2 separate regions of the Homo sapiens genome follow, and region 2 is linked to region 1. A link means that fine-mapping ties the variant in region 1 to the expression of a gene that starts in the linked region. Tissue or cell type: blood mononuclear cells. Region 1 holds a variant in brackets; the other region holds the start of a gene. All regions are shown on one strand. Distances are from middle to middle.

Region 1 (10,923 bases):
GATGGTCACTTTCTCATCTTGGCCAAAGCAGATTTGAAGTTACTTTGCATGAAGCCAGGGGATGCTCCATCTGAAATCTGGTAAGATCCAAAATGCCATTTCCTCCTGAGCTGGGGAAAAAGGAAACCTGAGTTAGTGGTTATCCTGAGGTTGAGTCTAACTTAGAAGAAAACTCTGGAGTCTTAAAGAGAGGTGTTCTTCTCTTTACCTCTCTTTAAATCCTGAGCTCAACCTATTCCTTTCTCACAAACCAGGAGCAGCTATACAGAAAATCCTATGATATTGTCCACCCACAAGGAGTATGGCATATTTGTCCTGCAGCCCAAGGATCCTGGAGTTCTTTCTTTCTTGGTAAGTCCTATTTGAGTGTGTGCTAAAGCAAACATTCGTCTAGGACCAGTGTTTTTACACCTTGGGGCCCGTCATGGAGGATAGGGAAGGGAAAGGCAGTTGGCTGCAAATCCTCTTATCCTCCTTCAACTGGAGCAGTTCTAATTTAGGACATTGTGTATTGGGTTCCCATGTAAGATTTCACTGGTACAAGAAAGGACTCTACCGTTTTAGAAAGCCATAGGAAACCATAAACCTAGAAGTTTTCTCAATTGCATTTTTTCCCGTGTCTCTCTTGTCTTGCCCCTATGAATAATAGCATCTTGAGGGCAAGGACTCCATCTTGTTTTTGTCATCATACTTAGCAGTTACTTAATAGATGTTCAACACTTTTTGGATTGAGTGTGCCAAAGCTAGCTGTTCACTTCAAATGCAGTTTCCTGGGAGCCGCTTGTTATTGGGAAGGTTATTAAATCCTGACCTGCTACCCACTAAAGTTATCTACTAAAGCCTATGCTTGACCCAGTGATTCCACTCCTAAATATATACCTAAGAGAAAGGAGTACATACATTCTGCAAAGCCGGGTACAAGAATCTTCATAGCAGCTTTATTCATCATAGCTAAATATTAATAAATAGAAAGGGGATAAATAATTTGTGGTATATCTATACAATGGAATACTACATGGCAAAAAAATTAATGTGATACTGCATGCTGATGAATGGAATAATACAGACATACCTCGTAGACATTATTCTGGGCAAAGGAAGCCAGTTACAAAGGAGTACATACTATATGATTTCACCTAAATGAAGTTTCAAGAACAAGCAAGACTAATTTCAGTTGACAGACATTAGAATATTTTTAGCTTTTGTGGTGATGGTCTGGTATTGATGGGAAAGGGACATAAGGGCAATTTTCTGAGGTGATGGAAATGCTCTACATCTTGATCTGTCGGGTGACTGCATGGGTGGATGCACATGTAAAAATACATCGCCGATGTACATTTAAGATTTGTGCACTTACCCAGGTGTAGTGGCTCACGCCTGTAATCCCAGCACTTTGGGAGGCCAAGGCCAGTGGATCACCTGAGGCCAGGAGTTCGAGACCAGCCTGGCCCACATGGTGAAACCCCATCTTTACTAAAAATAAAAAAATCAGCTGGGTGTGGTGGCGCACGCCGGTGTTCCCAGCTACTTGGGAGGCTGAGGCAGGATAATCGCTTGAACCCAGGAGGCAGAGGTTGCAGTGAACCGAGATCACGCCACTGCACTCCAGCCTGGGCGACAGAGTGAGACTCCGTCTCAAAAAAAAAAAAATTTGCGCACTTGATTGTATCTAAGTTGTAGTTAAAAAAAAAAAAAATTCCTGACCAGCCCAGAGCAGAAAACTGTTGTTTTGTCTGGTACAAGTTGACTCATATGGGTAGGCTAAACAAAATTACCTATTCTTTCACAGAGGCAAAAGGAATCAGGAGAGTTTGAAGAGAGGCTGAACTTTGATATAAACTTAGAGAATCCTAGTAGGACCCTAATATCGATAACTCAAGCCAAACCTGAATCTGGTGAGTGGTAACAGGAGGACCTGAGGAGCCGGGAGATGGCCCAGGGTGGATGGCAGATCCCTGAGACTTGGCTCTAATTCTGTCCTTAAAATGGCAGAGTCCTCATTTTTGTGTGCCAGCTCTGATGGGATCCTATGGAACCTGGCCAAATGCAGCCCAGAAGGAGAATGGACCACAGGTAACATGTGGCAGAAAAAAGCAAACACTCCAGAAACCCAAACTCCAGGGACAGACCCATCTACCTGCAGGGAATCTGATGCCAGCATGGATAGTGATGCCAGCATGGATAGTGAGCCAACACCACATCTAAAGACACGGCAGCGTAGAAAGGTGAGTTTGAAGGAAGGGTCAGAAATACTAGGGGAGGGCTGGGAGCAGTGGCTCACACCTATAATCCCAGCACTTTGGGAGGCCTAGGCGGGCAGATAATGAGGTCAGGAGATCAAGACCATCCTGGCTAACACGGTGAAACCCCATCTCTACTAAAAAATACAAAAAATTAGCTGGGCGTGGTGGCGGGTGCCTGTAGTCCCAGCTACTCGGGAGTCTGAGGCAGGAGAATGGTGTGAACCCGGGAGGCAGAGCTTGCGGTGAGCCGAGATTGCGCCACTGCACTCCAGCCTGGGCGACAGAGCGAGACTCTTGTCTCAAAAAAAAAAAAAAGAAATACTAAGGGAGGAGGGCTGTAGGTCTGACACAGCACATTGTGATGCTTCTCTGAGGAGGGGCCCCTGAGAACTCACCATTCTGCTCTCCCCTTTCCTCTTTGAGATTCACTCGGGCTCTGTCACAGCCCTCCATGTGCTACCTGAGTTGCTGGTGACAGCTTCGAAGGACAGAGATGTTAAGCTATGGGAGAGACCCAGTATGCAGCTGGTAAGTGTGTGTGTGTGTGTGTGTGTGTGTGTGCGTGCGCCTGCACACCTATCCCAAAGGGATGTCACAAGACAGCAAACTTAGAGTAAGAAAGGGCAAAAGATCAAAATTCTGTTTTCTTCAATCACTTGCAATGTATGACTAACCTGTTTCTAAATAAAAGGCATTAATGTGAGAAAAAATAAGTTAGTAAGGAGGCTTGTAGCCCTGACCTCCCCTATTTTTGTTCCCATCGTAGCTGGGCCTGTTCCGATGCGAAGGGTCAGTGAGCTGCCTGGAACCTTGGCTGGGCGCTAACTCCACCCTGCAGCTTGCCGTGGGAGACGTGCAGGGCAATGTGTACTTTCTGAATTGGGAATGAAGATGTGCCACTCGGGAATAATGATACCCCTTGTGCTAGAGATGCAAAGCCTGAAGACACTGGTAGCTTTTAATAATTATAAAATTAATAATTTCTTGATAATTATAAAAATGAAGTGTCAAAAAATCTCAAGTGTAGGCCTGCCTGTGTTCTCATGTGGATTTAGAACAGGAGGATATTCTATGTGTATGTATATGTACATTCTAATGTGTGTCTCTTCTTATTCAACATTAATCCTTACTAGAACCACAAGAAAGTGAATGAAATCTTTAGTAGGTACTCTTTTGAAACTAGGTTTTAGAATTCTTGCATCACTCGCGGGCCCTAGGACCCTAGGATGCCATTCTTGCCAGGAGGAGGAATGAGAGTGATGTTGGCCAACATTCAATTTGAACAGAGCATGGAAGACCTTTCAGTTCATCGGGAAAGAATGAGGGAGGGAGAATAAGTCAGTCATGCATCAGGGCATTTAGAAAGAGCTATGTTTCTGTCACAGAGACAGCCCTTTTCTCAGAACTACCCAGAGGAGGCCGGGCATGGTGGCTCACGCTTGTAATCCCAGCACTTTGGGAGGCCGAGGTGGGCAGATCACGAGGTCAGGAGATCAAGACCATCCTGGCTAACATAGTGAAACCCTGTCTCTACTAAAAAATACAAAAAGTTAGCCAGGTGTGGCGGCGGGCACCTGTAGTCCCAGCTACTTGGGAGGCTGAGGCAGGAGAATGGCGTGAACCCAGGAGGCGGAGCTTGCAGTGAGCCGAGACACCACTGCACTCCAGCCTGGGCAACAGAGCGAGACTCTGTCTAAAAAAAAAAAAAAAGAACTACCCAGATGAGAGGTGAGGAGCCAAGCCATTGAAAGCGGAACAAACCTTCTGGTTTTCCCAACTTCTGACACGACTTTCAACTTTAGTCAATATGGTAATTGGCATTCTCAGAAGAGATCACGAAAGTGTCTTACTCTCTCTCAAATTGAAATTCACAAAGATTAAAACTAATTGAGAGGTGGCACAATCATAGCCATGAACTCTGATTTTCTTAAGTAAAAAACCTTTTTTTTTTTTTTTTGTTTTTGAGATAGAGTCTGGCTCTGTCACCTAGGCTGGAGTGCAATGGTGCAATCTCAGCTCAGTGCAACCTCTGCTTCCTGGGTTCAAGCGATTCTCCTGCCTTAGCCTCCCGAGTAGCTGGGATTACAGGTGCCCACCACCACGCCCAGCTAATTTTTGTATTTCAGTAGAGACGAAGTTTCACCATGTTGGCCAGGTGGGTCTCAAACTCCTGACCTCAGGTTATCTGCACACCTCAGCCTCTTAAAGTTCTGGGATTACAGGCGTGAGCCATTGTGCCCGGCCCATAAAAGAACTTTATTATATTTCTAAAATTCAATCATATGGAAGAATCTATTGAGCAGG[T/C]TAGCCTTTGCTTAACTTTCCTCCTCTGTTACTCCAGCCTTAGCTGGGGTGTTTTGTAGAATTTTCAGAGCATGGGAGACAGACAACTAGAGCTTCCTCCTGCCCTTGGCCCATGCTTTTAGGAGAGCAAAAGGCAAAAGATTGAAACCACTGACTTTAGTTTCCTCAGGCCCTTTCTTTCTGAGGGTTAAAGAAGAAGGAAATGTCTTCTGTGGCCAAGAATTCAAGGACTTGTAGGAGATAAGTGAAGGCTATTACAGGGATTTTGTCCTGGTTTGGTAGGTTTCTCTTGGAGAAATACCACTACACCCTGGTCTAGAAATGAGTTTTGAAGACTTGGGGAGTTAAAGGGCACTGAGTTTTACTCTCACTGTACCCTGATTCCAGGTTTTACATGGAGAAATAACCTGAGGGACTTTATTTCTATCCAATGCCCTGGTTTCCATCCTGACCAGAGGATGATGACATCCGCTGATAGGCCATGCTTCTGTCTTCTCTTATGTGCCTCATGCCAAGCCTCGAAATATACCTTCTGGACCATCATTTCCACATCTACCTTGTGACTAGAAGTCCTAGTTATGGTATTTTGAAATTTATGATCCATAATCCTTGCCAGAAATCCTGCAGCGAACTATGGCATGGCATCATCCTAGTCATTGATTTCAATCTTTTGCCTTTTGCTCCCCTAAAATCTTGGGCCAATTGCAGGAGGAAGCTCTATTTGTCTCTCTTCCATGCTCTGAAAATTATATAAAAGCATCCCAGCTAAGGCTGGAGTGAAGGGGTTGGGGAAAGTTAAGCAAAGGCTAACTTGACCAATAGGCTCAATAGATTCAGTCTTGTTGGCCAGGCCCACTTGAAGGGTTTTTTGTTTCATCTTGGAGAAGGACAGTGAGGTCATGGTATAATTGTTATGAGTAAAGTCAAGAACAGCTTCTAGGTAAAAGTAATTATGTACCCAAAAGGAGTTGAAGGGAAAATCAATTTAGGTTTACATTAAACATCCTTCAAGTTCTTATCTTTAAATGGAGTTTCAGTGTCTCCCAAAGGCTGGATGAGTTTTACAGTTATAACCACTGGATTGTGAGACCATAGGACATTTGAACAATCTTTTCTTCTACCCATCTAGAAAAGCATCTTTTTTATATACCAAATTTTTACACATATATCCACATCTGTTTTTGAAATCTAGAGCAGAGGTACTCAAAGTTTGGTTCATGGACTAGTGCCAGTTCACAAATTGTTAATGTTTTATAATGAGATAAGTACGGAAGTTGAGAGTAACCATTTAGAAACTGTGTAGGAATTTAAAAAGTAATATCTGACAAATTTAATAATAAAAATGGAGGCTTGTATTTTGTGTGCTTTTTAATTTCATTTTCTTAATAATCCATTTTGATTATATTTTATAAAAGTATTATTCCGTGACAGATAAGAAATTAAAACAGGCCAGGCACGGTGGCTCACGCCTATAATCCCAGCACTTTGAAAGGCCAAGGCGGGTGGATCACCTGGGGTCTGGAGTTCGAGGCGAGCCTGGCCAATATGGTGAAACCCCGTCTCTACTAAAAATACAAAAAATTAGCTGGGCATGGTGGCAGGCACCTGTAATCCCAGCTACTTGGGGGGCTGAGGCAGGAGAATCGCTTGAACTCAGGGGGCAGAGGTTGCAGTGAGCCGAGATCGCATCATTGCACTCCAGGCTGGGCAACAAGAATGAAACTTGGTCAAAAAAAAAAAAAAAAGAAAAAAAAGAAAGCAAGAAAGAGAGAGGGAGGGCGGGAGGGAGGCAGGAAGGAAGAAAGAAAGACAAAGGAACAATTAGTCCTTCATCTCAGAAGGTTTGAGAAGCACTACTCTAGAGAGACTGGGTAACAGCAGCAAAAAGCATGGACTTGGAATAAGACTGCCTGAGTTCAAATCTTCATGCCTCCTTTCCCCCATTTGTACAACAGCCATAATAATGGTGCTTACTTCATGGGAGTGTTTTAAGGACTAAATGAGTTAAGGTGTAAAACACAGAACAGTGACACTTTTGTGGTAAGTATTCAATAAGTGCTAACTTGACTGTTCTTTTTGTTACCTAGCAGTACGAGTATCACCTCATTATTCTTTCTCATAAATGTCTTATTTATTAGTATATATTTAATCAATCAGAAAATCTGGACCGAATTTTTTAGTTTTCAAAAAAATGTGAAACTCGTATTCTTTCTAAGTTCAGGGGTACAAGTGCAGGTCTGTTACATAGGTAAACTTGTGTCATGGAGGTTTGTTGTACAGTTTATTTCATCACCCGGGTATTAAGCCTAGTACCCATTAGTTGTTTTTCTTGATCTTCTCCCTCCTCCCACCCTCCAAATACCTAATCTTCTCATCCAGAACGATGGGTATGTTTCTTTATCAGTTAAAATATTAAAGTTATGCTATCATAACAACCCCAAAATCTCAACAACTTAAAATAGCAAAGATTTATTTCTAAATCATGCCACATGGCCCGTTAAGGGTCAGCGAGAAGGCCCTGCTCTACTTTGCGCATATTTTGAGCTCTGTGCTTCACGTGGCGAGTAACTCTTCAATCTTCCACTTGGAAATAAAACACATCACTTCCACTCATATTTAATAAATACAAGCAAAGCAAGTCACGTGGCCATACCTAATGTCAAGGGATGGGGAGGAAGTATCCTACGATGTGTCTGAAAGAAGAACCAGGAGCCAATACACAGATGACATCCCCAAAGAACATATCTGTGTTGGTGCTTTCCCACTAGAATGGCTCTTAATCCTTCTTTTTTAATAATGTAAGATTTAGGCTGGGCGCAGTGGCTCAAGCCTGTAATCCCAGCACTTTGGGAGGCTGAGGAGAGCAGATCACCTGAGGTCAGGGGTTCAAGACCAGTCTGGCCAGCATGGTGAAACCCTGTCTCTATTAAAAATATAAAAATTAGCTGGGCGTGGTGGCATGCACCTGTAATCCCAGCTACTCTGGGGGCTGAGGCAGTAGAATCGCTTGAACTCGGGAGGCGGAGGTTGCAGTGAGCTGAGATCACACCATTGCACTCCAGCCTCAGCAACAAGAGCAAAATTCCGTCTCTAAAAAATAAAAAAAAATGTAAGATTTACAGAAGAGTTGCAAAGATAGTACAAAGTGTTCCTCGATACCCTTCACCCAGCTTCTTCTAATGTTAACATCTTACATAACCATGCTACATTTATCAAAACTAGGAAATTAACATTTGTTAATTAAATTACCAGTAAGTTAATTTAAAAATGTTAATTAAATTACAGTCAGGATTTGGATTTGCCCAATTTTTCCGCTAACGACTTTGTTTTGTTCCAGAAGCCAATCCAGGATCCCACATTGCATTTAGTCATTGCGTTTTCTCAGTCTCCTCCAACTGTGACAGATTTTCAGTCTTTTCAAAATCTTGACACTTTTAAAAAATAAATTTATTTATTTATTTATTTATTCTTGAGACAGGGTCTCAGTCTGTTGCCCAAGCTGGAGCGTGGTGGTGCAATCACAGCTCACCGCAACCCATGTCTCTAGGGCTCAGTGATCCTCCTGCCCCAGCCTCCCGAGTATCACATCACTGCACTCCAGCCTAGGCAACAAGAGTGAAGAATGTCGTAGAATGTTCTTCAGTTTGGTTTTGTTTTCTGTTTTTTCATGAATAGGCTGAGATTATGGATTTAATGGATGAATTCAAGAGATGATGTGCCTTCATACTGCATCCTATTGGGTGCATATGATATTAACATAACTTATAACTGGTGGTGTTAACCTTGATCACTTTTAAAGTTAAAGTGATATTTGCCAGGTATTTTTGCCATACCTTCTGTTAGAAGCGGGTCACTAAGTCCAGCCCATACTCAAGGGGAAGGAAAGAAAACCTCTAGAAGAGAGAGGTATCAAAGAAATTTATACATCTGGAGGTAGGTTTTTTGAGGCTATGCAAATATCATTTTCCCGACTAATCTTAGCATTCATCCATGGATCTTGACTGCAGTATTATTAGTGCGGTTTTCTAATCATGATTTTCTATTCACCTCCATTTTCCCTGATACTTTCTATTTCCCTTTGACATTTAGTTATTGAAATTATTTCTGATTTCCTTTCTTTTTTTGAGACTGGATCTTGCTCTGTCACCCAGGCTGGAGTGCAGTGACATGATCAGAGCTCACTGTACTCTCAAACTCCTGGGTTCAAGTGATCCCCCTATATATATATATATATTTATATTACAAAAACTTGGTATATTTTTATTGTGATATAATTCATTTTCTTTTTGTTGTTGTTTGTTTGTTTGTCTGGTTTTTTTGAGACAGGGTCTTACTCTGTTGCCCAGGCTGGAGTACAGTGGTGTGATCTTGACTCACTGCAACCTCCGCCTCCTGGGTTCAAGCGATTCTCCTGCTTCAGCCTCCTGACTAGCTGGGATTACAGGCATGTGCCATCACGCCCGGCTAATTTTTGTATTTTTAGTAGAGACAGGGTTTCACCATGTTGGCCGGGCTGGTCTTGAACTCCTGGCCTCAAGTGATTCACCCGCCCTGGCCTCCCAAAATGCTGGGATTACAGGCGTAAGCCACCGTGCCTGGCCTGTAATTCATTTTCACCCTTATGAAGTGTACGGTTCTGTGGTTCTTAGTATATTCACAAATTATGCAACCATTACCGCTAATCCTGGAACATTTTAATCACCCCACCAAGAAACCTTGACTCCATTAGCAATCACTCCCCTCTCTCTTCCTCCAGCCACTGGCAACCACTAATCTACTTTCTGTATCTATGAATTTGCCTAGTCTGGACATTTCGGATAAATGGAATCATATAATATGTGACCTGTGTGGCTTCTTTCAATTAGAATAATGTTTTCAAGGTTCATCCATGCAGTATCAGTACTTCATTCCATTTTATGACGGAATAATATTGCATTGGATGGATATACTTTTTATGTTTTTACAGCTTTATTGAGTTATGATTGGCATGCAATAAACCACACATATTTAAAATACACAATTCGATAAAGCTTGACATATATATATATTAATAAAATTATTACCACGGTCAAGATAGTTAACATATCTAACAGGAATAAACCACATTTTGTTTATCCATTTATTGGTTGATGGATGTTTGGAGTGTTTCTACTTCTTGGCTATTATAAATATTGTTGCTATCAATATGCATGTACAAATTTTTGTGTGAACATTGCTTTTTTATTCTCTTGGTTATACACCTAGTAGTGGAATTGCTAGGTCCTGATAACTCTTATGTTCAACTATTTGAGGAACTGCCAAGCTTTTCCAAAGCAGCTGCACCACTTTATATTCGCACTAGCAATGTGTGAGGATTTTTATTTGTCCATATCTTTGCCGAGATTTGTTAGTCTCAGGCCTTAGCCTCCTGAGTAGCTGGAATTACAGGCAAATGCCACCACGCCTGGCTAATTTTTCATATTTTTGCTAGAGATGGGGTTTCACCATGTTGGCCAGGCTGGTCTCAAACTCCTGACCTCAGATGATCTGCCTGCCTCTGGCTCCCAAAGTGCTGGAATTACAGGCGTGAGCCACCACACCCGGCCAAGAGTTTTAAATTTTGACGAAGACCAACTTATTTCTTTTGCTTGCTTGTGCATTGGTGTCATATTTAAGAAACTGTTGCTTAATCCAAGGTCACAGAGATTTCTCCTTATGCTCTAAGAGCTTTTTAGTTTTAGCTTACATTTAGGCCTTTGATCCATTTTAATTTTTACGTAGTGTGAGATAGTGTTCCTAATTTATTACTTTGCATGTGGATATCCAAGTCGTCCCAGCACCATTTGTTGAAAAGACTATTTTTCCCCCATTGAATGGTCTTGGCACCCTTGTTGAAAACCAATTGACCATATTTGCTTGGGTTTATATCCAGACTCTCAATTCTATCCCATTGATTTCTATGTCTATCCTATGTCATTATCACATTGTCTTGAGTACTGTAGCTTTTTCAAGATTGTTTTTGTTATTCATGATCTTTGTAATTCCTTATGAATTTTTCTTGGCCATTTCTGCAAAAAAAAAGGATAATGGAATTTTAATAGGAATTGTATGGAATCTATAGGTTGCTCTGGGAAGTATTACCATTTTAATAATAAATTTTCCAATCTACGAACACTTGTAGATTGAAAACTACAGAACTGTTGACAGAAATTCAAGACCTAAATAAATAGGTCTTAGCTGGGTATGGTGGCTCAAGTGTGTAATCCCAGCACTTTGGGAGACTGAGGTGGGCCTTGAGGTCAGGAGTTCAAGACCAGCCTGCCAACATGGTGAAACCCCATCTCTACTAAAAATACAAAAATTAGCTGGGTGTGGCGGTGCACACCTGTAATCCCAG
Region 2 (10,923 bases), 32 kb after region 1:
TGCCACTGTACTCCAGCCTGGGTGATAGAGTAAGACCCTTTCTCAAAAGGAAAAAAAAAGTTCTTTAAAAAAAGCATGCTATAGTATTTTCTGATAAGACATCACGTTATCTAGAATTACTTTATTTTTACAGATGGAGTGCAGTGGTGTGATCTCAGCTCACTGCAACCTCTGCCTCCGGGTTTCAAGCAATTCCCCTGCTTCACTCCAGTGTGGGCAATAGGGTAAGACCCTGTCTAAAAAATAAGATAAATTTAAAAATAAATAAATAAAATGAAAGTTAGATCATGTTAGATTTTTGTTCCAGTGGCTCCCCATCTCAAATGCTGTGGCTTGACCAGGCTCTATATGATCTGCTTCTTACCCCAGTGCTTTGATTTCATCTGCTACTATTTTTCCCTTTGCTTACTCCTGTTAGGCACTCTGGCCTCTTTCCACTTTGTCTCAAACATACCAGTCACTCTTCTCCCTACAGGCTTCTGTTCTCTCTACCTGGTCTACTCTTCTTCCAGCTAACAAGATTGATCCCTGACTTTCTTCAGGTCTTTGTTCTTAGTAGCAGTGGTGCCTTCCTTGATATAAATAACATCACTCCCATTATCACTTGTAGCCTCTTACTCTGCTTTATTTTTTTCCAGAGTACTAATTACAACTTAACATATATTTGTTTAATTTTTAGGAGATCTGACTCTCTCCAATAGACTGTAAGCTCCAAGTGAGCCAGGGCTTTGTGTATTTTGTTTCCTGCTCTGTAACCAATGCCTGGAACAGTATCTAGCTTTCAATGATATTTGTTGAATGAGATACTAAATAAGACAGGGTGTCAAGGAGCAAGGGGTATGACTTGAAAAAGAGGGTGGGTTCTGAAGGAAAGGTGAGACTTTATTGAACTTCACTGTCTTGAGGATTTCTCTTTCCTACCTTATTCAAAGAGGTGGATCTTGAGAGTTGTTTAAAAAAGAAATTCAGAATCAAAAAGATCAGTAATTGAAGGAAACTAGTAAGATTTTAAAAGCTTTGAAATTCCACAAGTATGGTTTATTATATTGCCTGATGTTATAAATATGTTTCCAAACTTATTTATATTTATTTATATATTATATTGCCTGATGTTATAAACAAATTTCCAAATTTATTATTTGCCAATTTTCCAAAAGTGATCAGCAAAGCTGCGGATCAGGACCACCATTTAAAGGAATTTGCATACATGTCTTCAGGAATAGCTAGGAAAGGGATGTTGATGAGAACCTTCTACTTTGCTACAACTTTGGAAGGAAAGGATCCTCAAGAGATATTAATTTAAAATGGAGAGAGTTCTGAGACGTATTAAAAGGGGGAAAGTAGTAGCTCAGAGTTGGGGTAGGAGGTGTTGAACATGTAGAAGGCCCAATCTCTGGAGTCCTAGGTTCAACTTGGGGGATAGGCATTCAATGTGGTGTCCATTTAGCCTTTGAAGCCTGTCCTTTGCTGCCTTAGGGGGTTGGGGTCTCCTACTTTTCTCTTCTCCCCTCTAAATTGAAACCTACTCTTGGATCTCTACCCTTATTTTGTGGAGAGGTACTGTTTTATTTTTTAAACACGAACACATTCTTCTCGTAAAACATTGCAGATATTCAAAACCAAAAAGCTCCTCCCTTAATTCCCTCAATCCTTCTCCTTGGAGTAACTTGTTAGCAGTTTGGTGTGTCTCTTTCCAGACTATTTTCTTTTCATTTACTTGCAAAAATGTGCACATACAGAATTATTCTATTTTGCATTTTTTGTGGGGGGGGGGAGAAGTGTTACATAAATGTGAGCATATTACATGGTGTTATTCTTGGCTATTTTCACTTCATATGCATTGGAGATGTTTTCATGTCAGTACATGCAGATTTACTTCATTCTGTTTAACTACTGGGTAGTATCTCATAGAATGGTTGTATCATTTAAAAAATGTTGTGGGTACATAATAGGTGTATAAATTTATGGGGTATATGAGATATTTATTTATTTACTTATTTATTTGAGACTGAGTCTCGCTCTGTCACCCAGGCTGGAGTGCAATGGTGCGATCTCATCTCACTGCAACCTCCGCCTCCGTGGTTCAAGCGATTCTCCTGCCTCAGCCTCCTGAGTAGCTGGGATTACAGGCGCACACCACCATGCCCGGCTAATTTTTGTATATTTTAGTAGAGATAGGGTTTCACCATGTTGGTCATGCTGGTCTTGAACTCTTGACCTCGTGATCCACCCGCCTTGGCCTCCCAAAGTGCTGGGATTACAGGCGTGAGCCGCCGCACCCAGCACATGAGATGTTTTATGTGCAATGTGAAATAAACACATCCTGGAGAATGGGGTATCCATCCCCTGAAACCTTTATCCATGGACAGTCTTTCAGTTATTTTAAAATGTACAATTAAGTCATTATTGACTATAGTCACCCTATTGTGCTATCAAATAGTAGGTTTTATTCATTCTTTCTAACGATTTTTTTGTACCCATTAACCACCCCTGCCGCCAAGGAATAGTTGTATCATGATTTAATGATCTTTGAATAGACATGGGTGTTTCTAATTGTTTTGCTGTCATAACCAGTGCTACAAGGAACATCCTTCCTTGAACATGCCCATTTGAGCACAATAGTTCTCCAGGGTGGATAACCAAATGTAAACTTGCAAAGGAGATGCTTAATTTTTAATTACAGACAAATGGCCATTCTCAATTCTTCATTTTGAATAAATTATAAATGAAATTTTTAGAGTGCTGCCTTTTCCAAGAGTTTACTCACTTCAGCAGTGATAACATCCCTTTTTTCCTTTTTTTAAATTTATTTTTTATTTCAATAGGTTTTTGGGGAGCAGGTGGTGTTTGGTTACTGGTGATTTCTGAGATTTTAGTGCGCCCATCACCAGAGCAGTGTACACTGTACTCAGCATGTAGTCCTTATCCCTCAACCCCACCACCCTTTCAGTGATAACATCCTTAAACGATAGTCATTCAGTTGGTGTTCTCCAAAGGGTGAGCCTCAAATCTACCGGAAGTACCTGAGGGTGCTTATTAAAATACATATTCCTGAGTCCCACCCACTGAATTAGAATCTCTGAACGTGTGTCCCAGGAATCTACTTTTTTTTGAAACAGGGTCTCACTCTGTTGCCCAGGCTAGAGTGCAGTGGTGTAAACACAGCTCACTACAACCTCTACCTTCTGGGCTCATGCTCTCTTCCCGACTCAGCCTACCTTAGTAGCTGGGACTATAGAGGCATCACCACTCTTGGCAATTTTTTATTTTTATTGTTTGTAGAGACAGTTGTTTTACCATGCTGCCCAGGCTGCCCTCAAACTCTTGGGCTCAAGCGCTCCTTCTGCCTCCACCTACCAAGTATTGGGACTACAGATGTGACCTACCACACCTGGCCCCAGGAATCTATCGACTTTTAAACAATTTCAAAGTTATTTTACAGAGCACAAAATTTTGATGTTACCAGCTGAAGAGAATTTCATCATGGATTATTATAAGTATTAAAGCCTGGAATACAGAATATCATAAAGAAATGTTAGATATTTAATGGGAATTTGAAAAGAATATTGTACTTTCTAAGGTTTTCTGAAATCACACAATATAGGAAGCAGTGCAATGTGGTGGTTGAGTTTGGGCTGTCAAGTTGGATGGCTGCTGTCTCAGTTTGTTTTCTGTTGCTTATAACAGAATACCTGAAACTGGGTCACTTATTTATTAGTTTGTTTTTTAATTAATTTATTTTTTGGATACAAAGTCTTGCTCTGTCTCCCAGGCTGGAGTATAGCGGTACTCCAAACCTACACCTCATTAGTTCAAGCGATTCTCCTGCCTCGGCCTCCCAAGTAGCTGGGATTACAGGTGTGCACCACCATGCCTGGCTAATTTTTTGTATTTTTAGTAGAGATGGGGTTTCGACATGTTGGCCAGGCTGGTCTCGAACTCCTGGCTTCAAGAGATCCACCTGCTTCGGCCTCCCAAAGTGCTAGGATTACAGGTCTAAGCCATCACACCAAGCCTGGTTTATTTATTTATTTAGTTAGTTTTTGAGACAGGGCCTCACTCTGTCACTCAGGCTGGACTGCAGTGGCACAATCTTGGTTCACTGCAACCTCCGCCTCCCGGGTTCAAGTGATCGATCCTCCCACCTCAGCTTCCTGAGTAGCTGGGACTACAAGCCCATACCACCATGCTCAGCTAATTTTTGTATTTTTAGTAGAGACGAGGTTTTGCCATGTTGGCTAGGCTGTGGGGTAATTTATTTTAAAAAAGAAATTTATTTTTTGCAGTTATGGATGCTGTGAAGTCCAAGGTTAAGGACTGCCTCTGGGTTGCATCTGAACTCCTTCTTGCTGGAGGGGACTCGCTGTGATGTTCCAAGGCGTGGCAGGAAATCACATGGCCAGGATGCTGAGACTGCTAACATGCTATCCTTAAGTCTCTTTGCCTTTTCTTTAAAGCCACTAGTTCCCCTCCCATGATAACCTATTAATCCATGAATAGATTAATTTATTTATGAGGGCAGAACCCTCATGATCCAGTCACCTCTTGAAGGCCCCACTTCTAATGAGGATTAAGTTTCAGCCACTTTAGGGATTAAGTTTCAACATGAATTTTGTAAAAGGTGAAAGATTTATGCGATATGAAGAGAAACTAGAGTGACAACATGAATTTTGAAGGGGACAGTCAAACCATAGCAACTGGGATCTGAATCCTGACTTTACCACTTGCTAAATAGACAAATTCCTTAATCTCTATAACTCTGTTTCCTTTTTTTTTTTTTTTTTTTTGGTGAAATAGTTATAATGAAAGTGCTTACATTCTTGGGTTAATGTGAAGATTAAACAAGGTAATGAATATTACATTTCTTGAATATTTATAGTAAACATTCAAGAAATGTTTTGACTCTAGAAGTTACAATAAATCAATTATGAAATAACAAATTAGCATTTGATGCTAAATGTTGGGAAATTTGGGGCAGGTAAACTCTAAAGTGGATTGGAATAGGTAATTTCTAGTAAGGTGGAAGCAGGGTGGATAGGATGAAATGATTAAAAAATGAGAACTACTATGAGTTAGAGTTGTATCATTTCTCCATATAACTTGAATCTTTATACTTCAAACATTTGCACATTACATGTATATTTGTACATATAACACATACTTGTATATATATTCCCTATTACTATAATAGTATTTATTAAGAATAATGATGAATATTGTGCCGGGGAGTCCTCTAATTATGGCTTAAAAAGAAATCTTTCAGCTTGGGCAACATGGCGAAACCCCATCTCTACAAAAAAATACAAAAATTAGCTGGGTGTGATGGTGCACGCCTGTAGTCCCAGCTACTTACTGAGGCAGGAGATCGCTTGAACCTGGGAGGTCAAGGCTACAGTGAGTCGAGATTTCACCACTGCACTCCAGCCTGGGACACGAAGTGAGACCCTGTTTCAAAAAAAAAAAAAATTTAACAGAGTAAGAACCTATACTTTAACTGGAGGGCGATGTGAGGAGTCAAAATAATTGATTAATCAATTATGTCCTCAGCATTGAAAGTCATTGTTTTTGTCTGGAGATGTGTAAAACGTACACTTTGATCTCCAGTTGTTTATAGTCTACTTGGGAATATAAATCTAACAAGAAATATGTAATAACAATAATAACAGCTAACATTGTTGAGTACTGTGTACCGGGCATTGTACTGAGTACATTATATAAATTATTTTACTTAATCCTCATAACCATCAGAGTAGGAAGATTTCATCTTTTTTCCCTCTTTTTATAGTTGGAACTGAGGCTTAGATGTGTGCAAATAAGTGGCAAGGTTCAGATTCAAAATCAGCTAAATTTTATTTGAAGCCTAAAACACTTAACCCACCTACCTTTTATCTACTAAGCCTGTTAGTTCAAAGATTACCTGAAGGTAAATTTTATCAGGCCAGCTTTGGATCTGGGGGGAAAAAATGAAGGTAAATTTTAACTTGAATCGATCTAGACTGTTTATAATGGAATCTGTTGCCTAGCATAAGTTAAGCATGTTGAGGTCACAAAGGATAAGAAATTACCCTTAAGGGATGAAAATTCTTTAGAATAGAATGCAGTAGGCCCACGCAAACAACAACGTGTATAAATAGCTTAAATTAGCCTGTTTTTGCCTAAGTACATTAACTCAAAAGGAAACTCGGTTTAAGAAGTTCACTCCAAAAATAGTGCAAGAAGCATCACTGGTCCATAAAGAGGGGTGGAGTGGGTTACGTCATTTCAGCACCTTTTAAGGTAAAGGAGGAGGGAATCCTCTTGAACTCATTAGCCAATCAGGTTCTGAAGACACTTCCCAAGGCGACTTCCTGTCTCTCCACTTTCTTTCCCTCTCCGTTTTGGTGGGCTGGTGAGTGTGCGCTTAATTTTGCTCTCTAATTGTTTTGAATTTCTCTTCCATTTGAGTTATATACCCAGGTGGCAGGCCTTTATTTCAAGTCGGCATAGGAGTGTGTGTGAGTCGCAAGGAGATTAATTTCGGCTGTGTGGAGGTTGGGAGAAGGCAGTGAAATGCTCTTCCTGGCTTGTTTCCACGTGGGCCTCTGCAGTACTGGGTTTGCCTTCCGTCTCCGAGTCCTGGTGACCCAGGAACAATAGACTGTGCTTCATGTGCACAGTGCGTGTGTTCTTGGAAAACGCCGGCTTCATTTTGCTTGGCGGGAAAGATATTATCATCCTAATGCTGTTTTGATTTATATCTCCCTGGGTGAGGTCAGATTTCGGGAGAAGGCGTTCAGCTCAGTAGAGTTTAATTCTCCGGTGAGTGTCTAGAGGGCCCAGGTCCTTACTGGGTTTGTGGAAGCTGCAGCGTACCTTGTCTTTCTCCTGGCCTTCGCTCAGATCATTTCGGCTTTCTTGGTGAACCTGGGCAGCAAACTCTGAAGACAGATAAGCCTTAAAAGGAGCTCCTAATTTTTAATGTTGCCACTGTGGTGATTGTGTCCTTAAAAGCTATGGAAAAAGATTAGGGACCTTAGTTCAGGGCAAGCCTCTAGATTTAAATTCCAGCGCCACAGTTTACAGCTCTGGTGACCTTGGGAGAAGCAGTGAGCCATTCCGAGGCTTAGCTTTCCAAGATCAGATAAAATATATAAAAACTAGGCTCTAGTTGGTGTGTAATAAATGTTAGGTACCTTTAGAAGTAAGCAGTACTTATTTATTTACAGCAAGTATTTTGGATATCTGTTTTCTCATAAAAAGTTTGCTTAGTGACCTTCAATGTCATTTCACTGAATTCCTTTCTTTTGGTACATGTTAATTTTAATGTGATGTTTGTGTTGGATATTCTTATAGGCAGAAAGTGTGAGAAAGACAAATAATAAACCAGTTAATCGAATGTAGTAATAGGTATTTGTAGGCCTCCCATAATTTTTATAATTCTCAAGCATTGTTAAAATTTATTTTTTGGGGCATGGCGGCGCATGCCTGTAATCCCAGCTACTCGGGAGGCTGAGGCAGGAGAATCGCTTGAACCCGGGAGGTGGAGGTTGCGGTGAGCCGAGATCGCGCCATTGCACTCCAGCCTGGGCAACAAGAGCGAAACTCTGTCTCAAAAAAAAAAAAAAAAAAAAAAAAATATATATATATATATATATATGTATACACATCATATATATATATATTTTTGAATAGGTAATACATTCACATGGTTCAAAATTCAAAAGATATCAAAGTTTCTTATCCCCTTCCCTAAGCCATCCAATTCCTCTCCCTCATAACAGTGTTACTAAGATATTTTATGCATATAAGCAAATATGTGTAGGTATCCTTCCCTTTTACTATACCTACTCTACTATGTGTCTTACTTTTTCCACTTAAGTTCCATGAGTAGAGTGTTCACATTCTTCATAATGGTAACATAGTATTCTTTAAAAATTATTTTTTTTAAAAAATATATTTTTTCAGTAGGTTTTCAGGGTATAATGGTAACTCAGTATTCTAATTTATGTACCTACTATAATTTATTTAGCTTTTATCAGTAGGTATTCAGATAGTTTATGATCTTGATATTTCCCCCTCAAATGAATAACCTTGTAAATCAGTCAGTTGGCATAAAGGCATTTCAATTGGGTTTTGGTATATTCTTGTTTAAAAGGACTCTAGATATTTTGCAGTGCTTCCTATTTATATTTATTTTGTACACGGTGGTGATTAGAAACCAATCAATACTCTAAACTTGATTGAGCAATAAAGGATTTTCTACCGAAAGGAAAATCATCTTGATGGCTTTTATGTGAATATATCTTTGCCCACTTTGGTTTGAGTGGGGATGGTTTATCTTGTTATGAGCATGTGTTTAATGCTGGGAAGGAGTGACAGCAGTGGCCCAGAACAACCAAGTCATCTTTGTATTCACAGGGGCAGAAAGGGCATGCTTTCAGTGTTTACTTAGAAAATGTGTGCTGGATATGCCCCTGAACTCATGGTGTTGAGGGCATATTTTAGTATTAAGTTAGGAAAAGCTGAAATGTATTTTAGGATGTAAACATGCAAAATAAAAAAGGAAGCCTTTGGGAATTTCTCCAAAGCTGTTTTAGTCTTAAGAGGCTTAGTTCCGGTTTTTTAGGTGGAAGTTTTGTGAGTTGGGAAAACATTACATTCTTTCCAATGGAAGCATGCTTTTGTTAATAAGACTTCATAATACATTGGAGTCTTCATTGTTAAGTAGGAAATGAGGGGAAGGGGGAAGCAAACCTGTGTCTTTTTTGCTTGAAGGACAATATGGCCGGGCGCGGTGGCTCACGCCTGTAACCCCAACACTTTGGGAGGCCGAGGAGGGTGGATCACCTGAGGTCGGGAGTTCGAGACCAACCTGATCAACATGGAGAAACCCCGTCTCTACTAAAAATACAAAATTAGCCGGGCGTGTTGGTGCATGCCTGTAATCCCAGCTACTCGGGAGGCTGAGGCAGGAGAATCGCTTGAACCCGGGAGGTGGAGGTTGTGGTGAGCCGAGATCGCGCCATTGCACTCCAGTCTGGGCAACAAGAGTGAAAAAAAAAAAGGACACAATATCTTGGAGTTGGAAGGGCCCTTATGAGTACTATATGAGTGACCTTTCTGGCTTCTGGGTTATTGTGAGAAGTGTGACTTTTTGTTGTTAAATTTGTTTTTATTGTAGATTCACGGGGTACATGTGCAGGTTTGTTTCAGGGTATATTGCATGATGCTGAGGTTTGGGCTTCTATTGATCCTGCCATCTAGGTAGTAAACATTGTACCCAATAGGAAGTTTTTCAGCTCTTGCCCCTCTCTCTCTTTTCCTCCTTTTGGAGTACCTAGTGTCTATTGTTCCCAACTTTTTGTTCCTGTGAACCCAGTATTTAGCTCCCTACGCAAGATTTAGCTCCCAACGCAAGATTTAGCTCCCACTTATAAGTGAGAACATGCAATACTTGGTTTTCTGTTTTTGCATAAATTCGTTTAGGATAATGGCCCCCAGCAGCATCCAGCAGCTCCAGTTGCTGCAAAGGACATGTTTTTTGTTTTTTTTTTTTTTATGGCTGTGGAAAAGTGTGAAATTTTTAGGCAGAATATTTGCCTTTCTACTCACTAGCTGGTTGAGCTTGGGCAAGACATAGAAATAACATATTAAACATTTAACTCCATGCCAGCTACAGTGCAAAATGTATTTATTACCTCAGTCTTCACGGAAGTTTTAAGAGGTATGTAGTATTTGTCCTCATTTTACAGAGGGGACAGCTGAAGTTTAGAGAAGTTGCATAACTTACCCATGGGCACAGCAAATACATGAGAGAGCCAGGATTAAAATCTAGTTTAGTATGATTTCAAAATCTATTATTTTAGGGAATATTAATTAGTGCAGCTATGATGGAAAACAGTATGGAAATTTCTCAAAAAATTAAAAATAGAACTACCATATAATCCAGAAATCCCATTTCTGGGTATATTCAAAGGAAATAAAACTAGTATGTCAGAGATACCTATACTCCCATGTTCATTGCATCATTATTCACAAAAGCCAAGATACGGAATTGACCTAAGGGTCCATCAACGGATGAATGGATAAAGCAAATATTATACATATGTACAGTGGAATACTATTCTGCCTTAAAAAGGAAGGAAACTGATAGTGAGTGGGAAATAAAACTTGGAGTCTGTTCTGATAGCAGTACCTTATATAACTATCTCTAAAGGAAAACTATACCAAGCTATTAGTCTAGTATTTACTTCCTATGAACAAAATTTTGTGTGTTCATTTTGTTTCAGGTTGAAGATGAAATCCACTGAGGAGGGAAGTCCAGCACCCTGTGTGCCAGTCCAGAACTGGCCCATCTGTAGACCCCCTGAAAATCATATGGGCTTGGATTTGGATATTCTCAACAGAAAGGGTTAAAGGCTGATGGTACCTAAAGCCTGGTACTTGAATTTTGATCAAGATAAGCTGCCTTAAGTTCTCTTCATTACACGTATGTGTGTCTTTCCTATCTAAAAAGCCTAGCTTAGAGATTCGAGTTACCATTGTATCCTATAATGCTAGGTGGCACTGAGTAAATTGGAATAGAGTCAAAAGGAATGGTGATGAAATCTTAACACGAGTATCTGCTGATTTAGTATCAATTTGTAGTTTGTATTAGGCCTTCATGAAGCATCTGTTCACACATATAAAATGTACCTTTTGGCTATGAACACTAGTACTTTGAAGTGATTACTGCCCACAGTCAACAAAATGCTGGGATCATTGATTGTTTATGGAGCATTTGCACAATACTTAGTAAATACGAAATGTCCTTTGTATGGTGGAATGACACTTGTTGAAGCATGCATGACTAGAATCCTGCAGGGAAGCATCACACATTGGGAAAGGTATCACATATTTAACATCAGGATTTATGTGCCAGGCTTTGTGCTATGTGTCAAAACA

The links. PIP is the estimated chance that this variant, and not a neighbour inherited with it, causes the effect.
Region 2: CCNB1IP1 starts here. The variant in region 1 is the best candidate, but not a certain one, in a credible set for the expression of CCNB1IP1 in blood mononuclear cells (TOPMed, PIP 0.71).

The regions. Positions count from the first base shown.
Region 1 is chr14:20,360,646-20,371,568 of GRCh38, reverse strand. TEP1 (telomerase associated protein 1) reads left to right here. Exons shown (of 55, transcript NM_007110.5): 50 at 1-80; 51 at 255-351; 52 at 1,790-1,895; 53 at 1,993-2,225; 54 at 2,667-2,771; 55 at 3,010-5,902. The coding sequence ends at 3,132. Among named protein-coding and RNA genes, the nearest start is that of PARP2, 22 kb to the right of the region's middle. The variant T/C (reference allele first, on the strand shown) is at 4,548.
Region 2 is chr14:20,328,719-20,339,641 of GRCh38, reverse strand. It overlaps CCNB1IP1 (cyclin B1 interacting protein 1), which reads left to right and starts at 6,363. Exons shown (of 7, transcript NM_021178.5): 1 at 6,363-6,388; 2 at 10,269-10,468. RefSeq lists an enhancer at 6,284-6,593.